3 linked regions of the Homo sapiens genome follow. The protein of the gene in region 3 purifies or fractionates together with the protein of the main gene of each other region. This does not show direct contact. Each region holds a gene or a part of one and is shown on either strand. Other genes may lie near its edges. The genes, in order: POTEF, COP1 and DMC1.

What was found.
Region 1: the proteins of DMC1 (region 3) and POTEF purify together in Homo sapiens (affinity purification with mass spectrometry; 3 studies listed by BioGRID and IntAct, with this or other methods). This does not show direct contact.
Region 2: the proteins of DMC1 (region 3) and COP1 purify together in Homo sapiens (affinity purification with mass spectrometry; 2 studies listed by BioGRID and IntAct, with this or other methods). This does not show direct contact.

What each region holds. Positions count from the first base shown.
Region 1 is NC_000002.12:130,087,673-130,091,328, reverse strand, and holds part of POTEF (POTE ankyrin domain family member F), read left to right. Parts: intron 1-3,191; coding exon 3,192-3,262; intron 3,263-3,656.
Region 2 is NC_000001.11:176,046,703-176,050,358, forward strand, and holds part of COP1 (E3 ubiquitin-protein ligase COP1), read right to left. Parts: intron 1-3,656. UniProt on the Homo sapiens protein: E3 ubiquitin-protein ligase that mediates ubiquitination and subsequent proteasomal degradation of target proteins.
Region 3 is NC_000022.11:38,535,603-38,539,258, forward strand, and holds part of DMC1 (meiotic recombination protein DMC1/LIM15 homolog), read right to left. Parts: intron 3,011-3,656; coding exon 2,937-3,010; intron 2,808-2,936; coding exon 2,693-2,807; intron 2,051-2,692; coding exon 1,990-2,050; intron 1-1,989. UniProt on the Homo sapiens protein: Participates in meiotic recombination, specifically in homologous strand assimilation, which is required for the resolution of meiotic double-strand breaks.

The sequences.
Region 1 (3,656 bases), on a different chromosome or scaffold from region 3:
TGAGGAGGGGGATTGGGATATTAAATATCCCAATAGACTTATGTTTTTTCTGCCAGAAAGAATGAGGAATGGCTATTGATAGGGAGCCAACAATGTGTGCTGGAGGGGGCTCATTGGAGAAATTTGAGCAGGGGAGCCACAAGATTAAATTTGAGTATTAAGGCATTCTGGTTATGGTGTAAAATGGGTTAGCAAGCTTTTTCTTTAAAGGACCAGGTGGGAAATATTTTGGACTATGTGGTCTCTGTCATATCTACTTAACCGTGCTGTTGTCTGCTGTTGTAGTGTGAAAGCCACCATGATTATATGTAAGCAAACAGGCATGACTGAGCTCCTATAAAACTTTATTTACAAAACCATAATGCAGATTGGATTTGGCCTGTGGCCTATAGTTTCCTGGGATTGATGGGAGATAATCATGCAAAGAAACCAGGAGACAAAGGAAGCTTTTGCAGTAGTCAGCTATAGTTTCCATGTCACACATCCTTGGAGTAGCATCAATGTATTACAAGGTTTTCACCCGTCCATGGTAAAATAAATAACGTTAGAAATCTCAGTTACTCATTTTACTATGTTGGCCTTCGTTATGCCTTTTTCACTTGTTTTGCTTAATTTTTTTTCCTGTAAGAAATAACATTAATAGTTGGCAGTTTTCTTTTAAATAGAAGTCATTTTGTAAATGTTTGTGTTCCCAGTGGCAGTGGGAATATAAAACAGAGGCAGAAGAGAGGTATAGTCAATATGATTTAGTGATAATTGAATGAGAAAGGCTTGGGGGACAGAGAGAAATCTCAGATGATGTACAGGTTTCCAGATTGCACACTAGTATTTAACCTGGACATGAGGAAGGAGTAGGAAATTTTCTGGTGAATACAGGAGAGCAAAGAGCAGCAGGTCAGCAGGAATGACTAATGTTTTTCGATGCATGTTTAATGGAATATTCGTGTAGGGTATTTTGAGTAGGTAATTGGATAATCAGCATTTATAACTCGCATCCTACTAGTTTGACTCTAAGTAATAAGACTTGTCAAAGATCCAAGAATCTGAAAGTCAGTAATAAATGTCCATGTGCATCATCGTCCGTGACAGAAAGTCAGCATCCACAGAACACAGAATTGGGACAGATGAACTTAATAGATAAAGATGAATATCGGAGTTGTTCCTCTTAGGGAATGATACTCTCCATGACCTGTGTGAGTCACAGCTGCCAGAAAAGAAAGAGCAAGGAGCGTATGAAGGCAGCACAGCAAATTCGGTCCTAGAGTGCCCTGCTTGGCTTCATGTCATAGTTCTGACTTCTAAATAATCATTTTCTGCAAAATGTGCTTTTTGTTTTTCCCTCTTGCCGCCTGCAGCCAATCAGAATCTTTTTAGCAGGACATAATGAAAAGAAGTAAGAGAAAGAGTGTTTTTTTGTAATGGGATAGTATTTAACGTAAACTTGAGAGTGAGTACCAGGATTATACTTAGAATTTATGGACTGGATGGGAAGACTGGATAGAAATCTAAAGATTGCTGACTCAAACACAATGTGGTTTCTTTGATTTATTTTCACAGCTCTGAATTCACGACTGTTAATTGTATTCATATGCATTATAACTTTACAAAGCATCTTCCGAAACCAAATATTTACTGATTTATTATAATTTGTATGACTTTATTATAGAACTGACTTTCCAAGTGTTCATGAGAATTGTTTAGAATTTGCTACATTGTATCATCTCAGCTGTGTCCACATGAGCTATCTGTCACCTTGTCTTAATGAATAATTGTTCACTAGGAATATTGGTTTTGGCATTGAAATGATCTATATCTAAATGCAGATAGGACCCGGGACCACTTTTGAACATTAATGTTCAAGCATCTTAAAATTACACATAATGCTTTCATAATCTGACTTCTGCCCCACTCTCCATCTTTAGCCCTTTTCCCTGTGTGCCCTGTCTCTGGCATTACTGAACTGCTGGCAGTGCCCTACTCACTCATCCTTCTATTGTAGGCAAATACTTTCACTCTTTCAGGAGTCGCTCCCGCTCTTGCTGCTGCGTGGCATGCCGTCACCCTTTCCTGCCCTCTACACCTTTTAATCTGGCTAGTCTCAATATTTAAGTCTCTGCTTGGGCATGTGTTCTAGAAAAGCCATCTCTGACATGCTTTATTTTAATTCTTTTTAAACCCTAATGCCTAGCATGTATTTAGCAGGACTCAATAAAATATTTCTGAGTAAAACAAAGACTGTTTTTACAAAGATGATGTGCAAGACTCTCCCCTGCAGTCTTGGAGCAGAGGGGACAGACGTGGAGGAATAATGTACAGTTTAGGTGGTCAAGATGCAGTAGAAAAATCAGTAAAGTACTAAGGCAGCCTCAAGGAAGGAGGTACCTGTTTATTTGGGGAAAGACATGCAGAATCAAGGAAGACTTCATATAGCATTGTTTCAAAAGATGAAAATAAGGCCAGGTGTGGTGGCTCACACCTGTAATCCCAGCACTTTCAGAGGGAATCACGAGGTCAGGAGATCGAGACCATCCTGTCCAATGGTGAAACCCCATCTCTACTAAAAATACAAAAATCAGCTGGGTGTGGTGGTGCTTGCCTGTAATCACAGTTACTCAGGAGACTGAAGCAGGAGAATCACTTGAACCAGGGTCGCGGAGGTTGCAGTGAGCTGATCACACCACTGCATTCCAGCCTGGTGACAGAGGAAGACTCTAGCTCATAAAAAAAAAAAAAGAAAAAAGAAAAAAAGAAAATAAATTTGTCAGAATAGTGGAGAGAAACATTTTAGATATTAGGAAGATGTTGTACACTAATAAAGGTGTCAGCAGTGATTTTGGAAATCATTTATAAGGTACTATTAGGAAGTGGAGAACAGTACACTGTGTCACCTTATATGTTTCTACTGTATTTTAAAGCTGTGTTTCTGGTGGTTTTGTTCATGGATGTTGGGTGGATGAATTTGTGAGGGAATTTTTGACATGTTTGTTTGTCTTCAATCTGGTGACATCTGCTATCTCCCCAAGTGGGTTTTTGAAGTTTTTGAGAATTATTTCTTAAATGACAATTTCACAAAAGATGAAACACTCAATTTATGAAATAAAATGAAATGTCTCAAATCTGTTTTTAAAAGGCAATAGTTTTTAACTGTTTTAAGTGGTTGATTTTAACTGAATGTATGGATTTTTCAACAGAACAAGACTTAAAGCTGACATCAGAGGAAGAGTCACAAAGGCTTAAAGGCAGTGAAAATGGCCAGCCAGAGGCATGGAAACTTTTAAATTTAAACTTTTGTTTAATGTTGTGTTTTTTTTGCCTTAATAATATTAGATAGTCCAAATGAAATTACCTTTCAGACTAGGCTTTGAGAATCAGTAGATTGTTTTTTTAAGAATCTTTTGGCCAGGCAAGGTGGCTCACGCCTGTAATCCCAGCACTTTGAGAGGCTGAGGCAGGTGGATCACGAGGTCTGGAGATCGAGACCATCCTGGCTAACATGGTGAAACCCCGTCTCTAGTAAAAATACAAAAACTTAGCTGGGCGTGGTGGTGGGTGCCTGTAGTCCCAGCTACTCGGGAGGCTGAGGCAGGAGAATGGCATGAACCCAGGAGAGGGAGCTTGCAGTGAGCCGACATCCACCACTACACTCCAGCCTGGGT
Region 2 (3,656 bases), on a different chromosome or scaffold from region 3:
CTTATTTCCCTGCCATTTTGTGGAGGTAGTAGAATTTCACAATATTAAATTTTATTTTTAATAAATAAATTAGTATATAATTTGAATTACTGAAGCAATTGGGTGATGACAAGGGGATGGAATACATATAACAGAACCACTGAATTATCATTACTTTTCCCCAAATCCATACCTAATCCCCCTCCCCAAATATCTCTCTGAATTATAAAACCCCAATACACATTCCTCATATCACAAAAGAGGTTAAATAAATAAATAAATAAATAATCTCCTTTCCTTCAGCGTTATTCACTCCTCTCTTGCTGATCATTTTTATATAAGCTCCAAAACAAGCTATTTGAAAGCAAGTACAAGATCATACTCGCTTTTACAGAACTTGCAGCCTAAACACAGTTGTTACATAACCAGCTGGAAATCTAATTAGCCCAAAGGTAGTAAAAGTTGAAATGAATCATCACATACATTATTCCTCAATATGATTTAAGCATCTTTTCTAGAGGTTTAGCGATAAGAATTCTCACTGATCTACAATTAATTACACAATAATACCTAATATTCATTAATCATTCACTTACTAAAACATTTTGCATGTATTACCTCATTTAGTCCTCATAACAACCTGTGATATATGTATTATTATTATCTACATTTTACAGATGAGAAAATGAAGATTAGAGGTGAGGTAAATTGCCCAAAGTTAGTCAATCTGTAAGTGGCTGAGGTGGGATTCAAACACAAGGTAGTCTGGTTTCAGAGCTGGTGCTAATAATTACTATGCTTTATTACAGATCAAAGCTCTTAATGTAAAACTCAAAGTGTAAAGGCTAAAGGTTTAAAGGTTTAAAATCTATGTGTATGAATGTATCTTCAATATCTATGTATGTGTGTTTCTTCTCTCAAAATGCCTAGCTAGTGCTCTGTATCTATTAAGCATTCATTTAATGCACAAAATACAAACACCTACATACAAAAATACAAACATCCATTTTCTTAATATCCATTCACAGAACAGTTAATGATTAATGATTTATTAAGAAGCTTGCTGAACTGATGATGGTAAGTAAGAAAAAGACACATTAAGAATATTTCAGGCTGGGTTCGGTGGCTCATGCCTGCAATCCCAGCACTCTGAGAGACCGAGGTGGGAGGATCCCTTGAGTCCAGGAGTTTGAGACCAGCCTGGCAACATAGTGAGACCCGATCGCTACAAAAAAATGAAACAATTAGTGAGGCATAGTGATGGGTTCTTGTCTCCAGAGACTTGGGAGGCTGAGGTGGGAGGACTGCTTGAACCCAGGAATTTGAAGCTGCAGTAAGCCATGACTGTGCCACTGCACTCCAGCCTGGGTGACACAGCAAGACCCTGTCTTAAAAAACAACTACAACAACAACAAGGACTATTTCCCTTAAAGACACACATTGATACGCCCACTTTTCTTTACAGCTTTAAATGCTTCCTTAATTTTATATAATTTTTTAAAGAATTAAAATTCTTTTTTTTTTTTTTTTTTACAGAGATGGGGTCTCACTATGTCGCCTGGGCTGGTCTTGAACTCCAGGGCTCAAGCAATCCTCCCACCTCAGCCTCCCAAAGTGCTGGGATTACAGATTTCAGGCGTCAGACATGGTGCCCAGCCAATTTAAAAAAAAAATTTATTCAGTTAAGTGTCACTGACTAGGGCACAATTCAGCAAATGTTCCCTCCAGTAAAGTATGATACTATAGCAATGCAGTAGATTTATTTGTACAACCTCAATTGAACTGCTGCCTCAGCTACTACTTGCTGCCATGTGGATTTTAATGCACCATAACTATAATGATGACAACTATTCATCTATCCCAACTCAATTTATACCCATAGTCTCATGTCACTGAAGGAGAAATACTACTTTATCTGGTAAAGGACAGAGTTATTATCAGAACTGAAATCCTGTTTTTAATTTAGGAGGTTTTGGTATAGCTGAGACTTCAAGTGAACTAGTTATCACTAAATACTTTTTCTCCGCCTACTCATATACATAGCTAATCAACACCATTCCAATGTTGTGCCAGTAAAAGTATGCCATTACTAAACTATTAGTTTTAACATATATAATACGTTTAAACACTAACCTATCAAAATAATAGCTTAAATACATTACAGGGAGAAAACTGACACATAAGTAAAAATGCTGTCAAAAGAATTAAGGGCCGGGCGCGGTGGCTCACGCCTGTAATCCCAGCACTTTGGGAGGCCGAGGCGGGTGGATCATGAGGTCAGGAGATCGAGACCATCCTGGCTAACAAGGTGAAACCCCGTCTCTACTGAAAATACAAAAAATTAGCCAGGCGCGGTGGCGGGCGCCTGTAGTCCCAGCTACTCGGGAGGCTGAGGCAGGAGAATGGCGTGAACCCAGGAAGCGGAGCTTGCAGTGAGCCGAGATTGCGCCATTGCAGTCCGCAGTCCGGCCTGGGCAACAGAGCGAGACTCCGTCTCAAAAAAAAAAAAAAAAAAAAAAAAAGAATTAAGATGATGACCTAAATATGTCTATTATTTCTTCTGCTGGTATCCTGTTATTCAAGACAGCTCTCTCTCTTTTTTCTACATGTTATTATTTAGTGACATTAGCTAACTCTTAACTCTCATATTAAAAAGTTAACTTTTTGTTTTGATTTCATTGCTATTATTTTCTTACATTTTGGTTATGTTTTGTTTTTAATATATTAAGGTATCAAGAACCTGTAGAGTATGTTTTTAAAAATATTTTGGGGGTAACAAGATCCTTTTATACTGTAAAAATAGATTTTAATAGAAATATTAATCAAAAAGTATAAAGAATAATATTATTTCTAGAAAATTTTGATTAAAAGGGAAAGAAAGACAAACAGGTCCCCCCCCTCAAACCACCTTTTTTAGTGGAAGAACTTCCACATCACTAAGACTCAGGATTTAAGGACTTCTAGATACTGAAACATTTGCTCCCTATCTCTGACATATTTAATCATATATATTCTCAAACATGAACATAATGAGATTCTAAAAACAGATCATGAACTAACTGAAATGAACACTGTAATTTTCAGGTGCAGAAAGCTTTCTAGAACTAATACAAAACAGATGACCTCTTATATTAACAGTATGATATTTCAACTACTTTTATTATGAAATCTGATAACCCAAGCAAAAGTACTTCAAAAGTTAAACAGTGACTAGTTAGGCTGAGACTAAATAAAAGGTAAACTAATTAACTGAAATGTTGCTTATGCAATTAAATTCAAAAACAAACTTTAAGTCTTACTACTGCTATACAACGTTCATTTCTGCCATCCACTGTCAGCAGTAATAATTAAAACAAGAGATTTATAAAAATTTACTGCATGACAAATTCAATTTCACAGAATTTGTTTTTAATTTCAACATACAAGTATACTTTTGAAAAATCGTGTTTCTGGGGACATAAATTGCATTTTTCTTTCACATTTTGAAACATTTCAACTGTTAAAAGAGTGATTTATATCAACAGCTGAAATACGTAATTCAGCTGTAGGAAACTAGCTGTATTCTTTGTCAAAAATGTCATTAGTCAAGTGATTAAGCAGCAAGGCAAGAAACTGCACAGGACAGCTGATTAATGCATACTGCCAGTACAATGCGGCACAAAGCAATGAAAGCCGTC
Region 3 (3,656 bases):
AAATCTTTTTTTTTTTTGTTTTTGAGACGGAGTCTTGTTCTGTCACCCAGGCTGGAGTGCAGTGGCACGATCTTGGCTCACTTCAACCTCTGCCTCCCAGGTTCAAGTGATCCTCCTGTCTTAGCCTCCCAAGAAGCTAGGACTACAGGTGCACACCACCATGCCTGGCTAGTTTTTTTATTTTTAGTAAAGACAGGGTTTTGCCATGTTGTCCAGGCTGGTCTTGAACTCCTGACCTCAGGTGATCCTCCCACCTCGGCCTCCCAAAGTGCTGAGATTACAGTGAGCCACTGCCCACTGCACCCAGCCTTTAAAAGATTTTTTTAAAAGCTTTTTGGCTAGGCAAGGGGGCTCACACATGTAATCCTAGCACTTTGGGATGCTGAGGTGGGAGGATCGCTTGAGGCCAGGAGTTCGAGACCAGCCTGGCCAACATGGCAAAACCCTGTCTCTTCTAAAAATAAAAAAATTAGCCAGGCGTGGCGATGTGTGCCTCCCAGCTGCTCGGGAGGCTGAGGCTGGAGCATCACCTGAGCCTGAGAGGCAGAGGTTGCAGTGAGCAGAGATGGTGCCACTGCATTGCAGCTTGGGTGACAGAGTGAAACCTTGTCTCTTAAAAAAAAAAAACACACACACACTTTAAAAAAGCATTATCATGAATTTAGATTTGTTTTGCTTTGTTTGAGACAGTCTTGCTCTGTCTCCCAGGCTGGAGTGCAGTGGTGTGTATTTAGGATTATTTTGATTGCTTATTCAGACACATAATGCTCAAAATTTGTTACGGTGGCAACAAACCTTTGTTTGATTTATCTATTTTTATTATCCTACTTTAGCTCTCTGTGTGTTTCTATTCACTGCCGTCTTTCAGAGTCATCAATAGTTATGTGCACAAACACTTCAACAAATTCTGAATATGCCTAGTGTGAACTGAAATTCTTTTTCTTCAAACAGGAGACTTCTCCCATAGTGCCTCTGATAAATATATCTCATGTATATCCTGTAGAAAGATGACTTTTTTGTTTTTATGAATGGTGTTTATTATACTGATAAGCTGCAATATAAGTTTTTATTTCCCTAGGATCTATTTCTTATTGTCCTCCCATACCCCTTTAGCCCTAGACCAAAGAGAAGCCCAAAGTACTGCTGAAAATGGTTAAAGTATTGCTTTATTCTATAAAGAACTAGAGAAAAATAGATTCTGGTTACCAAGTGATATTTACAATTATGAAGTCATATACACTGTGCAATAAAGTGATTTTTTTTTTGAGATGCAGTTTTGCTCTTGTTGCACAAGCTGGAGTGCAATGGCATGATCTTGGCTCACTGCAACCTCCGCCTCCCAGGTTCAAGTGATTCTCCCACCTCAGCCTCCCGAATAGCTGGGATTACAGGTGCACGCCACCACGCCCAGCTAATTTTTTGTATTTTTAGTAGAGACGAGGCTTCATCATGTTGGCCAGGCTGGTCTTGAACTCCTGACCTCAGGTGATCCAACCATCTAGGCCTCCCAAAGTGTTGGGATTACAGGCATGAGCCACTGCGCCCAGTAATAAAGTGATTTGTGATATATTTGTGCCCACATAAAGACTAATGATTTTTAAATTCTTTTCTTTTTTCTTTTTTCTTTTTGAGATAGAATCTTGCTCTGTTTCCCAGACAGGAGTACAATGGCGCGATCTCGGCTTACTACAACCTCCACCTCCCAGGTTCAAGTGATTCTTCTGCCTCAGCCTCCGGAGTAGCTGAGATTACAGGTGTGCGCCACCACACCCGGCTAATCTCTGTATTTTTAGTAGAGACGGGGTTTCACTATGTTAGTCAGGCTGGTCTCCATCTCCTGACCTCGTGATCCGCCTGCCTCAGCCTGCTAAAGTGCTGGAATTACAGGCGTGAGCCACCGTGCCCGGCCTTGAAATTATTTTCTATTCTACGCTCTAACCCTCTTTATATTAACCTCTGTGAAATAAAAAGTAGAATATTGGGGCTTACGTCATAGTTGCTCCTGGATCGGCAGTCATTTGATTGGTCACAAAAACAGCCACGTTATATTCTGCATCAAGAGATAAAATTTTAAAACTATGAGAAAGGCAATATAGATATTTAAAAGTTCATTGTTTAGATTTCAGAGTTTAGACATATTGCATCATGAATTTATTTTATAAATAACATCATATTCCTATTTTTCATTGACAACAGAAATTATTTGTTATTATTATTATTAAGGTTAGAATAAATATTTTTGGTTTAAAAAGAGTTGTAAAGCCGGGCTCAGCGGCTCATGCCTGTAATCCCAGCACTTTGGGAGGCTGAGGCGGACAGATCACGAGGTCAGGAGCTCGAGACCAGCCTGGCCAACATGGTGAAACCCCGTCTCTACTAAATATACAAAAAATTGGCCTGGTGTGATGGCAGGTGCCTGTAATTCCAGCTACTCAGGAGGCTAAGGAGGAAGAATTGCTTGAACCTGGGAGGCGGAGGTTGCAGTGAGCCGAGATCGCACCACTGCACTCCAGCCTGGGCAACAGAGCGAGATACCATCTCAAAAAACAAAAAAAAAACAAAGAGTTGTATTCTCATAAAGGTAATTTTATTTAAAAAAAAATCGCTGCCTCCTGACATTATATTCCAAGCTTCTCTGCAAAGTATACTTGACAAACATAGTCACAGATGCCATTTTATTTTAAAGATATACCTTCTGAGATTTTTTGGAGTCGTGACAACATCTGGGCCAATTTTTGCTGCCGTTCGGCCAACTCCCCACGGCCACTGAAATCCACTCGAAAAAGTGCCATTATTGAATCGATAATCTACACAGGATTAATGTAAAAATAAACATGCATTTGGAAATTGAAGGAAGACGTTATTTGAATAGAGATCAATAGAAGAAAAATATTATGCTAAATAGCTCTGTGAAAGCAATATTTAAAAGCTTGTACCAATAGCTTGAAGATGCCAGCTTCTTCATGGAACTTTGCTGCTACATAATCAAGTAGCTCCATCTGATGTTCACCTGATGGGAAATGCAGTGAGAAAATGTTATAAAAGTTGAAAGAAGCAGAGGCTAAGATCATTCATATTCTTGGGAGCCAGGCAAAATAAATTCCTTGAAGGATTTTCTTAATTATTGATGACTTTATTAAATATTATTGCAGCAGGGCATGGTGGCTCATGCCTATAATCCCAACACTTTGGGAGGCCGAGGCAGGTGGATCACTTGGGGTCAGGAGTTCAAGACCAGCCTTGCCAACATGGTGAAACCCTGACTCTACTAAAAAATACAAAAATTAGCTGGGTGTGGTGGCGTGTGCCTGTAATCCCAGCGACTTGGGAGGCTGAGGTAGGAGAATCACTTGAAGCCAGGAGTTGGAGGTTGCAGTGAGCCGAGATCATACCACTGCACTCCAGCCTGAGTGACAGAGCGAGACTCCATCTCAAAAAAAAAAAAAAATTATTGCATATTCTGCCTTAGCATGTATACCAAATGCTACATTATCCAAAAAGAATGTTACTCTTAATTTCAAAGACAAAGAATAATAAATAATTTGAGGGCACTTTATTATCTAAGGACTTACCAGATGATAAAATTTATAGACTGAGTAAATTAATTTAGAGAAAAATAAAATAGAAAAAAAGTATCAAAATGTTGTATCCCTCAA